Regions from separate parts of the Homo sapiens genome. Here region 2 is linked to region 1. Evidence: fine-mapped expression QTL. A gene starts in region 1. The other region holds a variant in brackets. All regions are shown on one strand. Distances are between the middles of the regions. Region 1 holds the start of BRD3OS (BRD3 opposite strand). Region 2 has its middle 17 kb from the start of BRD3.

What was found. PIP is the estimated chance that this variant, and not a neighbour inherited with it, causes the effect. A credible set is the group of variants that fine-mapping cannot tell apart.
Region 2: its variant is the best candidate, but not a certain one, in a credible set for the expression of BRD3OS in tibial nerve (GTEx, PIP 0.66).

The regions. Positions count from the first base shown.
Region 1 is chr9:134,023,375-134,027,760 of GRCh38, reverse strand. It overlaps BRD3OS (BRD3 opposite strand), which reads right to left and starts at 2,280. Exons shown (of 3, transcript NM_001355256.2): 1 at 2,225-2,280; 2 at 1,671-1,916; 3 at 1-1,553. The coding sequence starts at 1,013. The coding sequence ends at 759. RefSeq lists silencers at 1,987-2,406, 2,717-2,846.
Region 2 is chr9:134,082,475-134,086,860 of GRCh38, reverse strand. No RefSeq gene overlaps it. Among named protein-coding and RNA genes, the nearest start is that of BRD3, 17 kb to the right of the region's middle. The variant C/T (reference allele first, on the strand shown) is at 2,526.

The DNA.
Region 1 (4,386 bases):
CATGATGCTTCACAGATGATGATCATTTTGGTAACTCAAAATATAAATGCGGGCTTGGTGCGGTGACCCATGCCTGTAATCCCAGCACTCTGGGAGGCTTGAGCCCAGGACTATAAGACCAGACCAGCCTGGGCAACATAGGGAAACCCTGTCTCTATATACAGTAGTTCGCCTGGAGCCACAGCTACCTGGGAGGCTGAGTTTGGGAGGATCACCTGAGCCCAGGAGATAGAGCCTACAGTGAGCTGTGATTGTGCCACTGTATTCCAGCCTGGGTAACAGAGTGAGACCCCGTCTCAAAAAAGCAAAATACAAAATGTAATGCGACAAAGCTCCTGGTGAGATGCTGCTGCTACTCCGCCATTTATGCTAAAAACAAAAAACTAAAACCTAAAAAACTTGAAAAGGTGGTTTGTAATGGGGATGGGAGGGTTACTCTTGGCCTGGTTTAAACCAAGCATCTAGCAGTGCCCGGGCCTATGCTGTCCCTAGCAGCACCTGGAGAATTCAAATGTCACAACAGCTGACCACGGAGGGGACTCTAGAGGGGAAGTGTCCTGTGCACCAGTCACACCGCGGCTGTGCTGAGGGGTTCGGGGGCCAATTCTGCGCTTCTTGGGTTCTTACACCACAGTTTGATCTTCACGTTCATTATTCAAAATCTTCCAGCAAGGATTGGAAATCAACAAGACAACTGAATGAAACTCAGGTCTGTTTTCCTCAAAGTGTGGTCCTGGGTTCAGGTGCTCACATCGGAATTACATAATTGTGCAAAACTTGGACTGCCCTGTGTCCCTAGAGACCTCGAGCTTGTTTTTGTCTCGGACCAAGATGGCCTCATTTCCATACTGTGAGTACCACATGCTTCGGCTCCTGCTCAGGTACGTCCCAGGTGGCACCGACTCCAACTTCTGCTGTTGCTGCTGCCAGATGAGCAAGGAGGTGTCCCTGTACCGGAGGCGGGCGTAGCCTTCAGACAAGGCCTTCTCTGCCAGGGGGACACGGCCACTCATCCCCTCCCCCGTCCCGCTGGACTCCTGGGAACCCTGCTGTTCTGAGACGGCCCACGCGCACTAAATTAACGGACAGCTTTCCCAGCTTTGGGGCTTAAGGATCCCTCGTTTAACTGAATGGTAGAAATTAGGAATTCCGCCCATTTGCAGGCAACGTCCTCAGGAGGGTTGTGTGGTGAGGAAATGAGGCGGCCTCACCATTCTGAAGACACCTGAGACCCATTCAGGGGACCGCACACAGGTCAGAGCGGCGCCCGGCCACAGCTCTTCCGGGTGCAGCTGTGTGGAATTGACAGGGACGAGGCGTCACACCCTGGGGGGTGATTCTGCCACCATGGCCTGGACCACTGAGCTTGAAGAGATGGATCCAGTGCCCTGAGGAAGGGACATGGTGGCCCCAGACGCAAGCTGGAAGGAGCTCCGGTGGCACGCCCCGCACGCATCTGTCCGGGCCAGCTTTCAGGGCAACGGCTGTTCTGACCCACCCTGGGGATCCAGCCCCAGCGTTTGTTCAGGTCTCGTCTCTCCCCAAAGGTGCTGCTGCAAAGGAACGAACGTGCTGTCAGGAGAGGGGAAGTCAAGCGCCCCGGCAGCGGCGGCAGTCTGCAGCGCAGCATCAAGTCTCTGGGGGTCAGCGGCCTAGATCGAGCTACTTACGTCCCGTGGGGCAGCCTGGGAGCTGGGTGGAGAGTGAGACGGGCGCCCAGTGCCAGCTTTTTCAGTCACTGGGAGGTGCTGGGGAGGCTGCTTGTTGGGGCTTCAGGGTCTCCATCTGTGAAACAGGAGCCAGCGGCGCTTGAAAGGGCGCGGGTTCCCGGAGACGCCGCCAGGCGTCAGCCCCGGGACCGGAAGGGGCCCCCAGGGCCGCCTTGCTGCTCCGAGCATCCAGCTCCCGTGAGGCCCCTGGACCCAAACAAAAACGATGTCAGGAGAAAACAAACAGGGAAGCATCGCAACCCACTCCCGAACGCCTTCCCAGCTGCGCAGCGTCAGGGACCTCCCCTCCTGGGATGCCTGCGCTAGGTCAGCCTCAGCTTCCCGGGCCCCCATCGCGCGTCCCCGCCACCTGCGCGCACCCTGGGGTCCCCGTCGCGTGGCCCGCGGCCCCCATCCCCGCGCCCCAGACCCCGCGCGCTCTGGGTCGCCCCATCCTCCAGCCCCCTATCGTCTGCCCGCATCCCCGGGTCCCCCACGTCGCCCGCCCCAGTCACCGCTCGTCGCGGGCCTCGGAGATGCGGGCAGCGGCGCGACGCACTGCGGGGCTCCCAGGGCGGGGCCGGCGGCCGCTGGGCCGTGTCTCCATGGCAGCGCCGCAGGCCTGGCGAGCCGAGCGCAGAGGCTGGGCAGGCGTGTGCGACGAGCCCAAGCCATCGATCGCTCCGCGAGGAGGGGCTGGGCCCGCCCCGAATAGGAACTGGAAGAGGAGGAGGAGGGGCTGGAGGAGGAGGGGCTGGAGGAGGAGGGGCTGGAGGAGGAGGAGGGAGGAGGAGGAGGAGCTGGGAGAGGAGGGGCTGGGAGAGGAGAAAGGGCTGGATGAGGAGGAGGGGCTGGAGGAGGAGGAGGGGCTGGGAGAGGAGGAGCTGAACGAGAAGGAGGAGCAGAAGGAGGAGTGGAGGAGAAGGAGGAGCAGGAGGAGGAGCTGGGGGAGGAGGAGGAGCTGAGAGAGGAGGAGGAGATGGAGGAGGAGGGGCTGGATGGTGAGGGGCTGGGAAAGGAGGAGGGGCTGGGAGCGGAGGTGGGAGGAGGGGCTGGCAGAGGAGAAGGGGCTGAGGAGGTACTGGAAAAGAAAGAGGAGCAGGAGCTGGAGGAAGACGTGGAGGAGGAGCTGGAGGAGGATGAAGAGAAGGAGTGGGACGCCCACAACCCTGTTAGTAAGACACTGCCGGACTGTATGGTCTTATCATCTTGGTTTTCGTATTTCTGCTTGTGTGGTTACTTTTGCCACTGCTGTTACTGCTTTTATTAGTATTCTTACTCTCAGTAATTGATACAATTATTTTTAATTAATTAAATGTCCGGGCTTACTATCTCAAAAATAGGTCTTGAATTTCTCCATCTCATCCAACCAAGCCAGGCCTCTATACTGCTCATTTGGACTCCTCAACAGCCCCATGAAAGCAAGGTCTATTTCCTTTTCTCACTCCACCTCCAATCATACTCCAATAGCACTCTTTTAGTATCTACCCTTTTCCCCTAATTTTATGGTTTTCTCCAATGCCAATTAAGAAAACTAGCATAATGGAACCTGGTGTGGTGGCTCACCTCTGAGTCCCACCTACTTGGGAGGCTGAGGCAGGAGGATCCCTTGAGCCAGGAGTTCGAGGCTGCAGTGAGCCATAATCATGCCACTGCACTTCAGCTGGGACGAAACAGCAAAACCCCATCTCTAAAAAAAAAGAAAATAAGCATAACAGACATCCAAGGAAGATGCTTAGTGTGAGCACTAAGCCCACAGCTGTGGAACGCACATTCTTTTTTTTTTTTTTTTTGAAAGGGAATCTCACTCTGTCACCCAGGGTGGAGTGTGGTGGCACGATCTCAGCTCACTGCAACCTCCGCCCCCCAGGTTCAAGCGATTCTCCTGCCTCAGCCTCCTGAGTAGCTGGGACTACAGGCGCCGGCAACCACGCCCAGCTAATTTTTGTATTTTTAGTAGAGACAGGGTTTCACCATATTGGCCAGGCTGGTCTCGAACTCCTGACCTTGTGATCCGCCTGCCTCGCACTTTCTTCACAAGTACCTACACAGGACGTTTAGCAAAACTGATCACATGCTGGACCATAAATCAGTTTCAACAAATTTGAAAACGTTTAAATCTTACATGATCTCCCAGTCTTCCGACCTGGGAAAAGACAGCAACCGAAGTTATACTGCTTTCAAGAGACACAAGAACAGGCCTGTATTCAAAGACCCATTTAACACTTTTACCTCTATCTGGCTGGGTGCGGTTTTCACGCCTGTAATCCCAGCACTTTGGGAGGCCTAGGCGGTCACATCACTTGAGGTCAGGAGTTCGAGACCAGCCTAGCCAACATGATGAAACCCTGTCTCTACCAAAAATATAAAAAATTAGCCCAGTGTGGTGGCAGGCGCCTGTAATCCCAGCTACTCAGGAGGCTGAGGCAGGAGAATCTCTTGAACCCAGGAGGCGGAGGTTGCAGTGAGCTGAGATTGCACCATTGCACTCCAGCTTGGGTGACAGAGTGAGACCCCATCTCAAAAAAAAAAAAAAAAAATTGCCTCTAAGCTAATATAATTTGTTCTATGCCTTGAACTAAATAATTTGAATATTTAGTTACCTGTAAGCTTCCTTTTCCTGTCGTTGTCAAAACCAAATAGGACTTATATTTCTGTTCGAAACATTTACTTATGT
Region 2 (4,386 bases), 59 kb before region 1:
CAAACTCCTGGACTCAAGCGATCCTCCTGCCTGGGCCTCCCAAAGTGCTGGGGTTACAGACATGAGCCACTTTGCCCCACCATCTGGTTTAAATATACTTTAAATCATTTCTAGATTACTTAAAATAGCTAGTACAATGCCTATAACATCACTTTACTTGTGTGGATTCAATGTAGTACTCAGTGCACAAATTCAAGGTTTGTTCTTTGGAACTTTGTGGATTTGTTTTTTTTTTTAAGAGATGGGGATTTGTGGCCGGGTGCGGTGGCTCATATCTGTAATCCCAGCACTTTGGGAGGCCGAGGCGGGTGGATCACAAGGTCAGGAGATTGAGACCATCCTGGCTAACACGGTGAAACCCCATTTTTACTAAAAATACAAAAAATTAGCCGGGCGTAGTGGTGGGAGCCTGTAGTCCCAGCTACTTATGAGGCTGATGCAGGAGAATGGCGTGAACCCAGGAGGCGGAGCTTGCAGTGAGCCGAGATCGCACCACTGCACTCCAGCCTGGGCGACAGAGCGAGACTCCGTCTCAAAAAAAAAAACCCAAAAAAAACAAAAAAACAAAAAAAAAACAGATGGGGATTTGCTTTAAAGAGATGGTGTGGTGGCATGTGCCTGTAGTCCCAGCTATTTGGGGGGCTGAAGCAGGAAGATTGCTGGAGCCTGGGAGGGTGAGGCTGCAGTGAGCCATAATCACACCACTGCACTCCAAGCTGGGTGACAGAGAAGGACCCTAAAAAAAAGAAAGAAAGAAAGAGAGAGAGAAAGAAAAGCAAGCAAGCCCATGGGGAAGGAGCCAGGACCAGTTGGGCAGGGGTTTCTCCTCTTCTAAAGACAGAGGAGCAATAGCATCATGTTCAAGATAATGGCCTGCATTAGTCTGTTTTCTGCTGTATAACAGCATATCACAAACTGAATAATTTTAAGGAACAGAAATGTATTTGGCTCATGGTTCCAGAGGCTGCGAAGTCCAACAGCACGGCACAGGCACCTGGTAAGGGCCTTCTTGCTGCATTTATACCATGGTGGAAGGGCAAGTCAAGTACACAAGACAGAGAGAAATTGGGGGCCAAACTTATCCTTTTATCAGGAGCCCACTCTTGTGAAAACAAACCCATTCCAGTGATATTGGCATTAATCCATTCAAGAGGGTGGAAACTAATCACCTCCTAGAGGCCCCACCACTTAATACTGTTACAAGTTTCCAGCATGTGAACTTTTAGGGGACACTTTCAAGCTATAGCATGGCCCTCTGGCCCCATTCCAGCAGTATTAGGGGAGGAGAGAAGGATGGATCATTCCCAGAGATACAAACACCAAATCTACTCTTACCCTATTGGCCACTCCCAGCTGCAAGGGAGGCTGGAAAAGGTAGTCTTTATCTGGGCAGGCCTCACATCCAGTAGAAATCGGGGACTCGATGACTGAGAAAGGGGGTGCATGGGCATTTGGGGTCAACCTGAAGTCTCTACCTACCATATATGGTATCTGCAGTCCAAGCTCATCTGCAATTACCCACACGTCTTCTGATTTCCTCACTCATGATTCCTTCTCAGGGTTCAACATCTGTTTATTGAAGTGTCAATTCAAGTGGGCCTCAGAGTGAGGACAGTTTCTGCCAAGGGCTCTCATGGCAGTTTGAGAAAAAGTCTTTATTTTGCCCTTCCTCATGAACAATAGTGTCACTATTTAGAGGATTCTAGGTAGACAGTTATTTTCTCTCTGGCTTCCTTTTCTGCTATGGACAGCCTTGCTGCTATTCTATTGCCTTTTTTTTTTTTTTTTTTTTTTTTTGAGACGGAGCCTCACTCTGTCGCCCAGGCTGGAGTGCAGTGGCACAATCCTGGCTCACTGCAAGCTCTGCCTCCTGGGTTCACACCATTCACCTGCCTCAGCCTCCTGAGTAGCTGGGACTACGGGCACCCACCATCATGCCCAGCTAATTTTTTGTATTTTTAGTAGAGACGGGGTTTCACCATGTTAGCCAGGATGGTCTCAATCTCCTGAACTCGTGATCCCCCGACCTCGGCCTCCCAAAGTGCTGGGATTACAGGCGTGAGCCACCACGCCCGGCTCTATTGCCATTCTTTTGTAGGTGACACATTCTTTTCCGCTGGTTGTTCTCTCTGTGTTTTAACCTCTTTCCACCTCCCCACTGCTAACCTTTCCAGGGCCCCACTGTTTCTGAAGAGCCTTGGATTGGTGGTGTCTCCCAAGGGTGAAACCATCTCCTTCCCTTCTGCATTCTTCCAGACAACTAGCCATCAGAATGAGGGTGAGCCAGCGGCTTTTAAAAATTATCATTATTGGGCCGGGTGTAGCAGCTCACATCTGTAATCCCAGCACTTTGGGAAGCCAAAGCAGGAGGATCACTTGAGCCCAGGAGTTAGAGACCAGCCTGGGCAACATAGTGAGACCCTGTCTCTCAAAAAAAAAAAAAATTAATCAGGCATAGTGGTGGATGCCTGTGGTCCCAGCTACTCAGGAGGCTGAGGTTGGAAGATTGCTTGAGCCTGGGAAGT[C/T]GAGACTGTAGTGAGCCATGGTTGTGCCAGTGCACTTCAGCCTGGGTGACAGAGTGAGACTCTGTCTCTAAAAACAAAATAAATTTTAAAAATCTTACTATGGATGTAACATTCACATAACATAAAATTTGCCATTTTAACCATTTTAAAGTGTATAATTTAATGACTTCCAGCATATTTACAATGCTGAGCAATCATCACCTCTGCCTAATTCCAGCACATTTTCTTTACCCTAAACAGAAACCCAGTACCCATTAACACTCACTCCCATTTGTCTTCTCCCCAGCCCTTGGCAACCTCCCAGGCTCAAGCAATCTTCCCACCTCAGACTCCTGAGTAGCTGGGACCACAGGCATGGACCATCATGCCTGGCTAATTTTTTTTTTTTGATAAACAGCATCTCACTCTGTTGCCCAGGCTGGTCTGTAACTCCTGGGCTCAACTGATCCTCCTGCCTTGACCTCCCAAGATGCTGATATTACAGATGTGAGCCACCATTAATCCACCTTCTGTCTCTGTGGATTTGCCTCTTGTGGACATTTCATATAAATGGGATCATACAAGATGTGGTCTTTTGTTTCTGGCTTCTTTCATGTAGCCCCTAATATCTTCAAGATTCATCCATGTTGTAACATGTATCAGTACTTCATTCCTTTTTATGACTAATACTCTGTTGTATAAGGATATACTACATTTTCTTCATCCATTCATTGGCTGATAGACATTTGTTTTTTCTTGCCTTTTGACTATTATGAATAATGCTGCTATGAACAGTTCTTATTCTTACAAGTTTTTATTTGAGCACCCGTTTTCGGTTCTTTTGGGTGTATACCTAGGAATGGAATTGCTGGGTCATATGGTAATTCCATGTTTAACTTTTTCAGAAACTGCCAAGCTGTTTTCCACAGTGACTGTACCATTTTACATTTCCACTAGCAATACATGAGGGCTCTAATTATTTCGCATCCTTGCCAACATTTATTTTCCTTTTTACAAAAATTACAGCCATCCTGCTGGGTGTTAAGTGGAATCTCACTGTGGCTTTGATTTTGTACATCATTGATGACTCATGGTGTTGAGCATCTTTTCATGTGTTTTTTTGCTGTTGAGTTGTATAAATTCTTTATATATTATGGATACTATGCCATTATCAAATATATGATTTGTTGATGTTTTCTCCTATTCTTTGGGTTGTCTTTTCACTTTCTTGATATGATGCACAAAAGTTTTTAACTTTGATGAAGTTAAATGTATCCATTGTTTCTTTTGTTGCTTGAACTTTTACTTTAGTACCAAATAATCCATTGTCAAATCCAAGGTCTTGTAGATTTACCTCCATGTTTTCTTCCAAGAGTTTTATGGCTTCCACTCTTTTTTTTTATTTTATTTTTTTTGAGATGGAGTCTCGCTCTGTTGCCCAGGCTGGAGTGCAGTGGTGCAATCTGGGCTCACCACAACCTCCACCTCCCAGGTTCAAGCGATTCTCCTACCTCAGCCTCTCAAGTAGCTGAGATTCCAGGCATGTGCCACCACACCTGGCTAATTTTTTTATTTTTAGTAGAGATGGGGTTTCACCATATTGGCCAAGCTGGTCTTGAACTCCTGACCTCATGATCCACCTGCCTCAGCCTCCCAAAGTGCTAGGATTACAGGCGTGAGCCACCACGCCCAGCCTGGCTTTCACTCTTTTATTTTTATTTTTATTTTTTTGAGACAGAGTCTCGCTCTGTCGGCCAGGCTGGAGTGCAGTGGCATGATCTCGGCTCACTGCAAGCTCCGCTTCCCGGGTTCATGCCATTCTCCTGCCTCAGCCTCCCAAGTAACTGGGACTACAGGTGCCCACCACCATGCCAGGCTAATT